2 linked regions of the Homo sapiens genome follow. The protein of the gene in region 1 interacts with the protein of each later gene in a pairwise test. Each region holds a gene or a part of one and is shown on either strand. Other genes may lie near its edges.

Region 1 (7,167 bases):
CACACACACACACACACAGCTGGTACTCATCTCTCTGGAATGCTTCTAGTCCTTTTAAGCAGAGAAAAGAAAGTGAGCCACTGAGTGTCCTTCCACTCCTGTGGTATTAAGTACTAAACAGCCTGAAGTGCTTCAAACACAGACGTCAGATGAACTTGGCTCATCCCAGGCACAAAGCCACAAGCACCATGAATGACGTTAAGTAACATGACTAAGGCTGACTGGTGAATTCTCCTGGCCACGCCTCATGAGAAAACAATTACACCAATACTCTGAATTGGACCTGCATATTGGTGAAGTCAAAACTTACTGCCATTAGTTTTGAAAACACAGATTTAGGAATTTGCAGAATATTTTCAATAAGAGAACAAACAGCAATGTTTCTGCCTCTCAGTGTGAAACCTCTTGCTAATATTGATCAAAAGCATGACACTTTATCATCTATCTGTGTTCATGTTAAATCTGTCATCAGAGATGGTGATGGAGAAATATCTAATTGCCATGTAAAAACACACAAAAATTGGACATGCTATACATTTATCTTTTAAAATGTAGTCTGTATTATTTTCACCAACCAAAACACACATAATATATTTTATTATAAAACATTAGCAATGTTACTTTTGAGATATGCAATCTGAAAGGTCACACTTGTATTTATTACCAGGAGGAAATACCAGAGGAGTCACATTAGAAATCAACCAGACAGACTCGTACGTGGTTATCGCTACTTACACAGCATTAAATGCGGGTTGAAGCAGCACCCGCTCCGTGTTTCAGACACGGACTTGGGGTGGGCAAGGGGCCCTGTAAGAGGGCTTCCTCCTCTCAGTACTGGGGCTCTGCGTCTCACCTGCTCCCATCTCCAGGCCCACGGCTGACACGGTATGCACAGCCAGGGTTTCCAGACTGCTCTCCTGCTCTCACAGAACTCTGTCTGCTCTCTGGACTCTGCCCTTGAAACTGAGACCTGGACATGGGGGAGACAGTCGTTTCCTTCTTGGCTGGAAACTAAGTCAACAAATGAAACAAACCTAGTCTAAATTCCAGGATAATAGTAAATTACCTGGTTTATAAAAATACATGTCCAAAATAGTTACTTCCTGGGTTGTGTACAATATAAATTACAAAAATAAAATAGAAAAGATGAAACAGTTGAGCACATTTTTCAGTTCTTTAACCAACATCAGCATTTATCCATAGAGATCAGTTTGAAACCATTTGCGTGGCACCAAGACCCTGGCAAATCTAGGCTCAGGAGAGAGAACCCTGAAGCTGGGGTGAGGTATTTCTGTGGAGCCCTGTGGCCTGTCCTAGGCACGCTCGCCTCTACCTGGTGGAAGATGGCCTTTCCAGGAAACCCTCCACACCGTCACGGGCTCCATCTGTGGCAAGTGGCTCGCTGAATGCACAGAGGAGCGAGTGAGCAGAAGGGCGTCTGCGGGTGCCTCGTCCCCCGTCCACGTCTCCCGGGGAGGGAGCATCACACAGTGCAGGGCAGCTCGCGCATTTTCAACCTCTCCCTTTTGTTTTTCCTTTTAAAGATAGATTTAGTGAAGTCTTTTAAAAGAAAGTGTATTACAGAGAAGGCCATTTTAAGATGTTTAGATAGATAGCCATAAAATAGGTGTTTCCGCCTCAATCCAAGTTATTATTACCATTTTGTACTTGAAAGTGTCCAAATGACACAATATAAAAGAACTATTTCTTATTTCAATATTAATTTTGCTAATCAAAGGTTCCAGTTTCCAGTGATATGACCAACCAATAAGATATAACTGGTGCAGAGAGAGCCATATATTTTACATAATATTTATAATAAACTTTCTTATCACAGTTCCTCCTCAGAACACACTCTACAGAATGTCGACTGAAAAGCTTCCAAAATAATTGAACACAAGATATGAATCAGCAACAGAATAAGCTCAAGGGAAGAGACATGGGCACAGGCAGGCAAAACGTGATCACCACAGCTCCGTTCCTGCAGTGACACTTAACATACTCAGCATCTTCATGAATTCTGAATAATTTACTGATCGTAAAGTCTAAAAGTATCAATTTCAGGTGAGCAGTTTTAAATCAGAAAATAGTCAATAGTTAATCATGACTCTTCAGGGTATTTCCTTCACGTCCTCTGAAGAGTTTCCCAGAACATTCTTGTGAAAAGGAATGCCTCCCAACAATGGAGAGCAACAATAGCAACAGGCATCTGAATCAGCCTGGCCTCTGAAAACAGACCAAAGAGGAGTTTATCTGCTTTCTTCCAGTGAAGAAAGAAAATCAAGAACGTGGTATTGGCCGAGGGAAAGTGAATGAGGGAAGGTAAATAAAGGACCCAGGCCAGTCTGTGGCAAAGGAAGCACTTAGGAAATGACTGCAGTGATCTCTAGTGAGCATTTTGTAAAATTCCACTCCAACGTTAGGCCATGGATGCAGGAACCTATCTGCCATCATATTTAATTAAGATGGAGTGTTACGCACCTAATAAAGAAGGTGAAGTTCTAGGTAGCATTTTAAATTCATAAGAAGTCTAGAAGACCAAGAAGAAAAGAGATAAGGTAGCTAGGATTTCAAGCAGCACTAAGCAAAACTTAAAATTGTATCGTGCAGTAAAGCTGAATGTACAATCATCCCAGACAAGACAGTTTAAAGAAAACAAGATGTCCACATAAGTGTCTTGGTTTTAGCCGTGATAATTCTCAGCCCCAAACATCACAAATCTAAGAAAAGCTATATATTTTTATTTATTAAATAGATTTAATTATATGTCTTCTGAAATACAAAAGATAGAATAAATCATAGCATAAAAGGGAATAAGATATGATAACATCATGATGGCCAATTAATACACATAAATCGACTTTTTCTGGACAGACACCAAATTACTTAAGAGGATTAAGAGATAACTTCAGAAGCAGCACTACCTGGAAGATTATTTGGCATTTAAATACTGATTTCCAAAGTGCTAGATGGGCAAGTCCAAGCAAGCATTTGTGGTCACATGCACATACATCTCAACAGTTACAGATGATGAGAAACTGTCACTAGTACAATTTGAAACAAATTCACCTACTCTAACTGCTCACCTGAAATGATCTTGAACAAAATCTCTAGAAGTGTGGCTTGCAATTTTTTTCTTCAGACATATTCTGCCTCATTTTATCATCTAAGCAGGCAATCCTATCAGGTCTGAGTAGGGCAAGGCATTGTGTTTCTTACATGCAGAACATGGAGTTTTTCTATTTGGTTCCATCAACTCCCAAGCATTTCAGGCCCACGGAGGTGAGAGTTCCTTCAATGCTGACAGGTTTGCTATTTCTAACCTATCATCGACAGCCTTCAAGGGGTCCCGTCGAGGCATCAAGACTGCTGTCTGTGTCTGAGGCCAGCGTCTGCTCAGTGGACATGGATGAAATGTCATTGATCGATGAAGACTGAGAAGGAGTGGCGTTGCTACTTACTGCTGCATCTGTGCTAAGAAAACCAAATATAATAAAATCTGAGGCACGACATTGCTGCAAATCCAGGCAGCGAGACTGCAGGCCATTTCTCGGCTCTGTCCTTTTGCAGTTTCCCAATCCTAACTATGAGTATAGACAAGAAGTCAGTCAGCTGGACTTTCTGAACTTTTCCTTGAGTCTTTCTTTGGGCCAAGAGTCCCATATTCCTATGTCTTTCCTTGCAAGATTCTTCTTTTTTTCTCAGTAGCTAAACATATATGTGGCCATGTATAATCATGTTAGCTACTTAAAAAATACCTGCTGCTTTCAAGCAGACATCAAAAGGACACAGCTATATTTATCTGAAAATGCAGTATCACAAAAGCTTAAGCCTGACTAGGATTCCAGTGTCACCAGACACTTGAATTGTAACAATTTATAACATAAACACTAAATCTACAGGAAAAAAAGCATCAACTTTCAAAGAAATCTTTTGCAATAAATAAAGACTATATACCAGAAAAAGGAAAAAAATTAGTGGCCTTGTATATTTTATGGTTTTATAACTCCAGAAAACTGACATTTTAATCTTTTAAAGCAAATGAAACTATCCTACTTCCTACTATCCATATTTTAGTCTGGTTTGAATAAAAACACAACATGCACTCTCTGAGATCGACGTCTGCAGTCATACGTGTGTGCTCAGTTAACAAGCACCTAAGTTCTTGCTGAAGTTATATAATCTCTAGATGCTTGACACATACGTCATGTTGAACATAAAATTCAAGAATAAAAAGTAAGCTGTGCTCTCTGCACATCCGCACACATGTGTGTGCATGCTTCCCAGTGGGAGTGGGAGAGAGACAATGATATAACGTGAGCGTTTCATTTAGTAAACAGGAAGAATCCTTCAGACGTAAGTGAACACGACTCATATCAGAGTCTCATGATCATACAACTACCTGGTCATTAGAGGCTTCCACCACTATGAAGATCAGTAGATCAAGCAGAAAAATGGGAAAATGATATCAACAATTTTCTCAAAAAGAATACCATACTCCATTTTACTTAGATTGGCATTTTGGGTGGGACCAGTACAAAGGGTTATCAACATTGAAAAGGCTTTAAATTCAATTTCTTCATCTGTAAATGGAGGTGACAGCAGTTATTGCAAAGATGAAAGAGAAATGCTTATAACAAAGTTCAGTGCCTGGCACATCAGTAAAATGTCATCCACCACCACCACCACTATGACAAGCCAAAAAGGCTGGCTATTCATACAGCGGTTTTTAAATCTGATGCTAGCCAGGCTGGCATTTCACATGTTGCTGCCATTTATAAAAGTTGAATCGGGAAAGACGCCAGGTGCGGTGGCTCACGCCTGTAACCCCACCACTTTGGGAGGCTGAGGCGGGTGGATCACGAGGTCAGGAGATCGAGACCAGCTTGGCCAATATGCTGAAACCCCGTCTCTACTAAAAATACAAAAATTAGCCAGGCATGGTGGTGCGTGCCTGTAATCCCACCACTTTGGGAGGCTGAGGCGGGCAGATCACAAGGTCAGGAGATCGAGACCAGCTTGGCCAATATGGTGAAACCCCGTCTCTACTAAAAATACAAAAATTAGCAGGGCATGGTGGCGCGTGCCTGTAGTCCCAGCTACTCGGGAGGCTGAGGCAGGAGAATTGCTTGAACCCAGGAGGCGGAGGTTGCAGTGAGCAGAGATCGCGCCGCTGCTCTCCAGCCTGGGCGACAGAACGAAACTCTGTCTCAAAAAAAAAAAGTTGAATAGGGAAAGAAAAATATCATACAATCAATTAAAGCAATCACTAACCTGAAGGCTGATCTTTTACAACACCATTCTTGCTTCTTTCTTCCCAATCCATGACTTCTTTGTAAATTAGCTCTTTAATAAAAATACAAGTTAAAATGCTTAATCAGTTTCTAAACAGTTTCACTGTATCTCTAAACTCTGCTTCCAAATCAACTGGAACAAAGGCATTGCGATTTGTTATTTTTAATTGTAAGACAGAGTCAATTCAGTAATATAGTCTACCTGGACCAAAATATTCATATTTTGATACATTATATCTTTTCTTTTCTTCTTCTTCTTTTTTTTTTTTTTTTTTTTGAGACAGTCTCATGCTGTCATCCAGGCTGGAGTACAGTGGCATGGTCTTGACTCACTGAAACCTCCACCTCCTGGATTCAAGTGATTCTCATGCCTCAGCCATCCAAATTGCTGGGATTACAGGTGTTCACCACCATGCCTGGCTAACTTTTGTAGTTTTTGTAGAGACAGGGTTTCGCTATGTTGGCTAGGCTTGTCTTGAATTCCTGGCCTCAAGCCATCTGCCCCACTTGGCCTCCCAAAGTCCTGGGATTACAGGTGTGAGCCACTGCGCCTGGACTACATTACATCTTTTTCAATGCAACTAGTAAGGCAGCAAAACATGTAGGGTGGTTCTGGATCCATAAGGGGGCTTTATGAAGTGGAGTGGCTCCCACAGAACACTGTAGGGGATTGGATATTCTCACACCCATTTGAATATGTTTCTCTATGTGGTTACTTGGGGTTCTCCAAAGGTAACCAGCACCCACATGTGGGCTAGGAGCCCCCCACACTGGCCAGAAATGAATCCACAGGCCTAAGTCTTTTCTTAATTTCAACTTCGGTTTTCCTCAACTTTCATCTGTAAGAAAAACTAATTACCTACGAAGTAAGTGATGAGGGATTCCTAAAATGTCAGTATTCATAAACCAACATTAGCACGTTGCAAGCATTCGCTGAGGCCAGTGAGCATTGACTGAGGCCAGTGAGCACGCTGTGTGCATGCACTGCTGAGCACGGGCACACACAGGTAACCGGCACTCCCACACCCCAGGATGGCCCTGGGGCATGACCCTCATCAGTGTTGACTGACTCTGACTGTGGTTCTCAGTTACTACTGATCCTGCTTCTTAATGAAAAATTGTTAGTTCAACCTCTTCATTACAGGTATAGTTTGTTGTGGGTTGTTTGGTTAATCTTATAGTGGTAATAATACCTATTTGCATATTTTCAATCTGCAATTTCCCCCAAACTAGATTTTAAAACATATGTACAACTACATGGCTTAAAAACATATCAATCAATATAAGTATGATACAATTACTAAGCTCAGTTTATAAATCAATATGTGAAAAGCCATGAAAAAAATATTATTTTTCCCTCTTGAAGCAAATGATAAGAAATTCATAAATGTTCCTCTCTAACTCTGTTCTCTTCAAGTTCATTTTCTACTGGAAACTGGGGAGAAAGAGGCTAAGTGGGTCGCAGGGTTTCTTGCCCCTTCCTGAAGGGAAATGTCACAAAATGAAAAGCCTCTGCTCTACAGGATTGGAAGAAATGTCAAAAGGAAGGATCAAAATAAGCTCCATCTTTACCTTTCCATTCTTCAATTGCATGTTCTCTTTCTTCCAACTGGGCATCATAAATTTGAGGTGGTGGCTAAAAATTAAATCATATGTAAAGTCAACAGTAATGCCTCAAAAAAAAATGAGGCACTAAAAAAGGTAAAATTGCTTGGAAGACTTCTAGTCTATTTATGATATGGATTTAGTTTAATTCAACACGTGGTTTAATAAAGATTTGTCATGTGATATTATATCAACTTTAGAATCAAAATAATTATGAAAAAGTTAACCAAAGAAGAGTTATTATGTTCCTCTTAATAATCACCTGACC
Region 2 (7,000 bases), on another chromosome or scaffold:
TGCCTTACTGCTTGAGTTGTGACATCTCATCTCCTGCCCTCAGACTGGGATCACTGGCTCTCCTAGTTCTCAGACCTTCTGACTGAGAAGGTCTGAATTATGCTACTGACTTCCCTGGGTTGCCAGCGTGCAGAGAGCAGAACGTGTAATTTTTCAGACTCCTTAATCATGTCAGCCAACTCCTCATATATTGGTTCTATTTCCTTACAGATCCCTGACTAATTCATTAGTGAAAATGAAGCTGGTATTCATTTAAAATAGACTGCTATAAACTAGGATGTTAATTGTAAGCCCCAGGGTAACCACTAAGAAAATAATTTTAATTAAGAGAAATGACACGGGAATTAAAATAGCATATTAAAAATATTTAACACAAATGGAAGAAATGGAGGAAAAAAGAAATAAGACATATAGAAACAAACAGCAAAATGGCAAATGTAAAGCCTACCTTATCAGTAATTACATTAAATTACATGAATGAAACATCCCAATAAAAAGTCAGTGACTGGCAGAATGGGCTACAAGAAACATAATCCAACTGTCTACAACAGACACACTTCAGATTCAAAGACATAAATAAAGCAAAAGACAGAAAAACATAACAAGATATGACAATTATAAACAGAAATTGTACCAAACAATGGCCCCAAAATACGTAAGTAAAAAATGACAAAGAGAGAAATAGACAAATCAACAATAAAGCTTTTGATACTCGACTTTCAATACTAACAGAACAACTAGACATGGAACCAGAAAATAGACCCTTTAACACTATAGACCAATTAGACCCAATAGACATATGGAGCACTCCATCCATTAACAGCAGAATTTACATTATTCCCAAGTACACACAGGACATTTTCCAAGACAGGCCATGTGCTAGGCCATTTTAAAAAAGGCCTCAAGGCTGGGCATGGTGGCTCACGCCTGTAATCCTAGCTCTTCGGGAGACCTAGGTGGAGGATCACCTGAGCTCAGGAGTTTGAGACAAGCCTGGTGCAATATGGCAAGACCCCGTCTCTACTAAAAGCACAAAAAAAAAAAAAATTAGTTGGGCATGGTGGAGTGCGCCTGTAGTCCCAGCTACTCGGATGCTGAGGCACAAGAGTCACTTGAACCCAGCAGGTGGAGGCTGCAGTGAGCCAAGATTGCACTGCTTCACTCTAGCCTGGGTGACAGAGCGAGATGCTATCTCCAGAAAAAAAAAAAGAAAAGAAAGGCCTCAATAAAATTTAAAGGATTGAACAATACACATTATGATTTCTCATTGCAATTAATTCCAAATGGATCAAAAACTGAATTATAAGAGAGAAAACTAGAAAACTCTTAGAAGAAAACGTACATGTAAATTTTTGTGACCTTGAATTGGGCAATGTTTTCTTAGATATGACACCAAAAGCATAAGCAAACAACAATGAACTTCATAAAAATTAGATATTTGTTCTTTAAAGGATGTAGGAAAGTGAAAAGACAACTGACAGAATGGGAGAAAATATATGCAAATCATATATCTGGTAAGGGTCTAGTATCCAGAATACATAGAAAATTCTTACAACTTAGCAAAAAGACAAATAATCCAATATAAAAATGAACTAATGATGTTGAGCATGTCATGTGCTTACTGGCCACTTGAGTATCTTTGGAGAACTATCTATTCAAATCCTTTGCCCATTTAAAATTGGATTTATCTTTTCATTTCTAAGAGTTCTTTATATATTCTGGATACTAGAATACACATGATTTGCAAATACATATATCTGCTTTTTCACACCATACATGAAAAAACAATACTGATAAGAATGTGCTAAACACAAACTTCCCTCCAAGTTAAAGTGTGAATTTAAAAGTGCAATCATGCCTCAGCCTATCCTGATCCCTTTTTTTTCTATTTAGTTTTTCCTGGACCATCATCTAAAGCAGGGTTGTCCAATCTTTTGGCTTCCCTGGGCCACACGGGAAGAAGAATAATTGTCTTGGTCCACACATAAAATACACTAACATCAATGATAGCTGATAAGCTTAAAAAAAAAATAATCCCAAAAGCCTTCCTGGGCTGCATGTGGCACAGGCTGAACAAACTTGAACTTAAGGTTTCATAACCATCTCATGAACAAGAAAAGTTCTCAGCAAGGAAAGAGGCTTCTTTAAAGGTTTTCTATTGTAAACTTTTTATAATGGCATTAAACTGTAATTTTTAAGAGGAAAAGTAATTCTGAACCTTGCCATAAACTAGGGCACAAACACACAATTTAAAAACAACAACAACAACTAGCACTTACAATTACCAAAGGCTTAAATGTTAAATCGTTAAGGGTGGGTTGGAGATGAGTGGTAGAGCGTAGGAGGAATGCTATATAGCTGATGTTGCTTGGCAGAATTTCAAAGAAACAATCAAAATGTTACATATTTAGTACAACATGTAGAATATTTTTCAAAGGCTTTATTTCTCTGTTCAAAGATAGAGACTGTCCATGTCTCTTAAAATTCTTCATTTCACTAATACATAATCAGTTAAAAATAGCAGTTTTATTTAAACATGTTCATCTTTCATAAATATTTTATCTGTAGGAGAAAAATGTTTGCTCTTCTCAAATCAAAACACATTTGTTAAGGGCAGGATTTCATTCAAATAGGAAGGTGATCTTAAATGTGAAATTATCAAATTTATGCAAACTACTGCTAATGCTCTATTTCTACCAATAATTAAGAGATTCCTGTAAACCCTAAAAGCTCAAGAGCAAAGGCACATGACAGCCATGCAACTTTTATACAATGACTCTTTGTTGCTGATGCTAAAATCTTATGAATTTCAATGAAACTTACAGACTTACCAATTTCTAACAAACAAGTGAGATTTGTATACCGAGAAGCCGCAAACAGTCGTAGTAATCATATTCTGCGCCGCATAACATCATTCTTCTTGCTAGTTTATGTTGGTTTTAGAACATGGCTGCAAATTTTTTTGACTTCCCATCACAAGGTGAAACCTATGTCCCCTTTTCCTTGGATATGGGTGGGTTTATGACTGCTTCCAACAGAGAAGGGATGCCAGGCAACTTCAAGGCTAGATCATATGAGGCCATGCAGCCTACTAGACACTGAACCACTTATGTAAGAACTTTAAATACCCTGAGGCTGTCATGCTGGGAAGGCTACCTGTAGCCTCTCCAGCTGACAAGTCCCACGCACCTAGTCATTCCCATCAAGGTGTCAGAAATGTGAATGAAGAAACCATCTTGGAAGTAGACTCTCCAGTTACAACTGTTGCAGTCCCTGGCTTTCAGCTCCTTCCCAGCTGTGGCACACATAAAGATAGCAGAGACAAGCCATCCCTGTTTCATCCTGTCTGCATCCTGACTCACAGAATCAACAAATGCTTGTTGTTTTATGTCAGTGTGTCTGGGGTGGTTAGTTTCTCAGCAATGAATAACTGAAACACAGATCAACAATTTAATTGGACTAACATGAGATGACTGTCAACTTTGGGCAAATAAACTGAAAGACTATAAAGACATGGTTCTGTTTCTAAAGGAATCTACAACCCGGCATTAGATTCTAACTTGCAGAGACTACCTAACACCTAGAAAAGTATCTGGCACATAGCAGATAATCAATATTTGCTGAATAAACAAATGAACTATATTATTTAGGGTTGAATGTTGTATAATATACATTTCTACCTGAATTTCAATGTTCTTATTTAAGAGAACAGAGAAAGGTCAGGCTGTTCATCACTATCTGTTCAAATGGCATATAAAAATCATATTACATTTTATAATTTTTTTACATTTATATACTCAGTAATCACTCTTAGCTGTCTGTATCAGGCAAATCACCACCTTTTCCAATCATCCATCTTTTCACTGTATCTTTCATGTTACAGGCCTAAGATACTTTAGAAATGATAAAATTGGTTACTTCAATACTAATAAGCACAGCTGGAAAATGAAACCTTCAACTGGATAAGCCTTTACCAACATGTAAATGAAAAGGCAGTTTGCAATTACCAAGGTTTTTTACATTCTCATTATAAATGGTTTGATAAGAAACACTAGTAATAGTTCAACTGCAAATTAAATTCTTGAATGCATGTTAAAGGAATATTCCTGAAAATCTGTGAAACTGTTATCTTTCAGCTCTCAAAATCATAAATAACTGAACTGACATTTCATTCAGTTCCTCTAACATCTCATAACTGATGTTTAGAAAAGAAGCCTATACACTGAAAAGAACAGTTCTACTGAAAGAAGCAGCCTGAAATATTCTTCAGCCATAACTAGTCCTGACTCAGACTAGTATATTCAAAAGACCAGTGTCAGTTTCCAGGAGGCCTCTGCCATCATGTTCAGATTCTATGCTTGCTGGTTACAGAAGATATAAAAAAATGCAATGCTACATTATTACACGCATTTTCAAAAGTCTGTCTATCCTACTCTATCTTACCTCCTAGTTCTAGACAACACAGTTTAGAGTTAAGCATTCTATAAATCTAAATGTTTCCAACATTTTAATAACATCTTTGTTTTTTTCATTGTTTCTCATGTCTTAACTCTGATGTTTAGAAATAAATATCAACAATATATTGATACAAAATGAATGTGTATTTCATGTGCACATGAATGAAACTTTTGCTACATAGCAGCAGAGAACATGACTTGACCTACGATAGAGTCAACATGGTTTATTAGAATAGTAAACAAGAACAGTAAAGCTTGAGTCTAACTACAGCATTAACTAAATTTTTGTGACTCAGTCTCCTTATTCATAAAATGAGGGGGATTAGATAATCTCCTTCAAGTCTATGATTTTATGTGTGAGTATAATAGCAAGCCATTCTATATCAGACTTACACTCTTACATCTAAGTCCAGTATGATGTAGTATGCATTGTTTTTCACAGCAATCGAGATTACTGCAGATTTATACTGTAAAACTGGCTTAACTTGAAATTAGAAACCAGTATTTATTTCTGCCATTTTATGTGATTCTACACAAATGACGTATACTGTAACTCTTCCTAAGTTAAAGATCAAGTCTTTTAGCAAAATCAAATTATAAAACTCATCAGCTAAATAAATTACTTAACCTTTTAAAAAGCTTTTATGAGAACAGAAATCCCCACTAAATATTTAGTTTTCCAACTCCTAATTCTTGTTCAGTCTAGTCCCTGAACCCAGAATCTTTACAAGATCTTAGCAAATAAAATAATGTATTTATTTCCATATTGCAACAAAATTATCGTTTTTATTGGCTGCATAATATCCCACTGAGTTTATGTGCATAGTATTTTTTAACCCTTCCCTACTTTTAAATAACTGATTCCAATTTACCAAACTATGCACAATGTTGCACTGAACATATTTACATACAATTTTTCCTGCTTTTAGATTATTTCCTTAGGATAATAAACTAGATAAAAGGAGATTTACATTCATATAGTTTTTAAAAACAAACTGCCAAACTGCTTTATAGAAAGAATCTATCATAATATCCTGTCATCTATTTGAATATATCAGTTTCATATTACAGCAGCAGAAATATTAACAGGTATAAAACAGTACTTCCTCACTGTAGTTTTTGTATTCATGTTTTTGATAAATAATGTTAAATACTGTTCCATACAACTTATTTATTGTATCTCTTCTGTACTTGATTCACCCATTTACTTACTAGTGCTCTGGTTTGTTTTGTTTTAATCAAGTTTTTATGTTCATTTGAACCACCTTTTTCCAAAATCTGGAGTTACTTCTTTTATATTTTTTGCTTACCTGTTTTTGAGATGTGCCTCCAGATCACAACGTTGCATTACATCTTTGCACACTGAAGAAAATGGACATAAAACTAATAATTTGTCTAGGAGTTTATGAACTAGAATACTAGACTTCTTGCACAACTTAAAATGAAGTCTTTTCCGGTCCAACGGACAGAAATCTTTCTCTTGTAAAAAGTTTCTGAGGCACTTGTAGCAGAATGTATGTCCACAGGGTGTGTCTAGTGGCTGCAGCAGAGGTTGAAGGCAAATATGGCAGACTAGGTCATCATCCACTTCATTCTGGTAATTGTACAAATGGTTTTCTCTTGTCCAGTGCTGTTGGCCACATTCAAAACACAGGGGGTTTAGAGAAGAGGAGGAGGTCTGTTCCACAGACACCATCTCATCACTTGTTGTTCCCATTTTGAATCAATTCTGTATCCTCATGTGTTAGACTTCCACTTCACGCTTGGTTTCCTTTAACAGACAGTGATGTATCTGACTAAAGTCAAGGTGTGTTTTTCTAGATAAGCAAAACAAACACATTAAAAAAGGTAATTAATATCAATCAAGATAGGTTAAAAGTATCAATGTAATATTACTGGTTAGCTTTTTTTAGTAAAAAATTAAAGGTTGAATCAGGTAATAAATTAGTCATAAAAAAAGAAATTAATTTTCTAGTTGGCTAAGAAGGACTTACACTGCCAAGTTCTTTTTTATTATAAGTTTTAATTGTCTCTTTTGATTTTTTTATTTATTTGCTTTTTGAGTCAGGGTCTTGCTCTGTCACCCAGGCTGGAGTGCAGTGGTGCAATCTCAGCTCACTGCAACCTCTGCCTTCCAGGCTCAAGTGACTCTCCCATCTCAGCCTCCCGAGTAGCTGGTACTACAGGTGCACGCCACCATGTCCTGTTAATTTTTTTGTATTTTTTTGTAGAGACAGGGTTTCCATGGTGGAAAGCCCAGGGTGGTCTTGAACTCCTGGACTCAAGCAATCAGCCCTCCCAAAGTGCTAGGATTACAGGTGTGAGCCACCGTGCCTGGCTCCCACTGTCAAGTTCTTGATAAAAAAACAACTTTTGATGAAAGGTAAAGACACCATAGATTATATAGTGTGACATAAGAAACAATCGATTTGTTTTACTGACTGAAATCCCCAAATATGTCACTGTTCAATGGTAGTTTTAAAGCCAATTAATTGTGCTAATAGTAATGCTGTTTGAGGTATATAATACATTTGCATGTCATC

The links. Proteins that work in one complex are often made in the same cells at the same time.
Region 2: the proteins of MAPK9 (region 1) and LNX2 interact in binary tests that used the Homo sapiens proteins (3 or more experiments, as listed by UniProt).

What each region holds. Positions count from the first base shown.
Region 1 is NC_000005.10:180,233,058-180,240,224, forward strand, and holds the end of MAPK9 (mitogen-activated protein kinase 9), read right to left. Parts: intron 6,931-7,167; coding exon 6,867-6,930; intron 5,347-6,866; coding exon 5,275-5,346; intron 3,475-5,274; coding exon of another isoform or gene 3,470-3,474; coding exon 3,327-3,469; 3' UTR 86-3,326; downstream 1-85. UniProt on the Homo sapiens protein: Serine/threonine-protein kinase involved in various processes such as cell proliferation, differentiation, migration, transformation and programmed cell death.
Region 2 is NC_000013.11:27,575,530-27,582,529, forward strand, and holds part of LNX2 (ligand of Numb protein X 2), read right to left. Parts: intron 6,275-7,000; 5' UTR 6,175-6,274; coding exon 5,768-6,174; intron 1-5,767.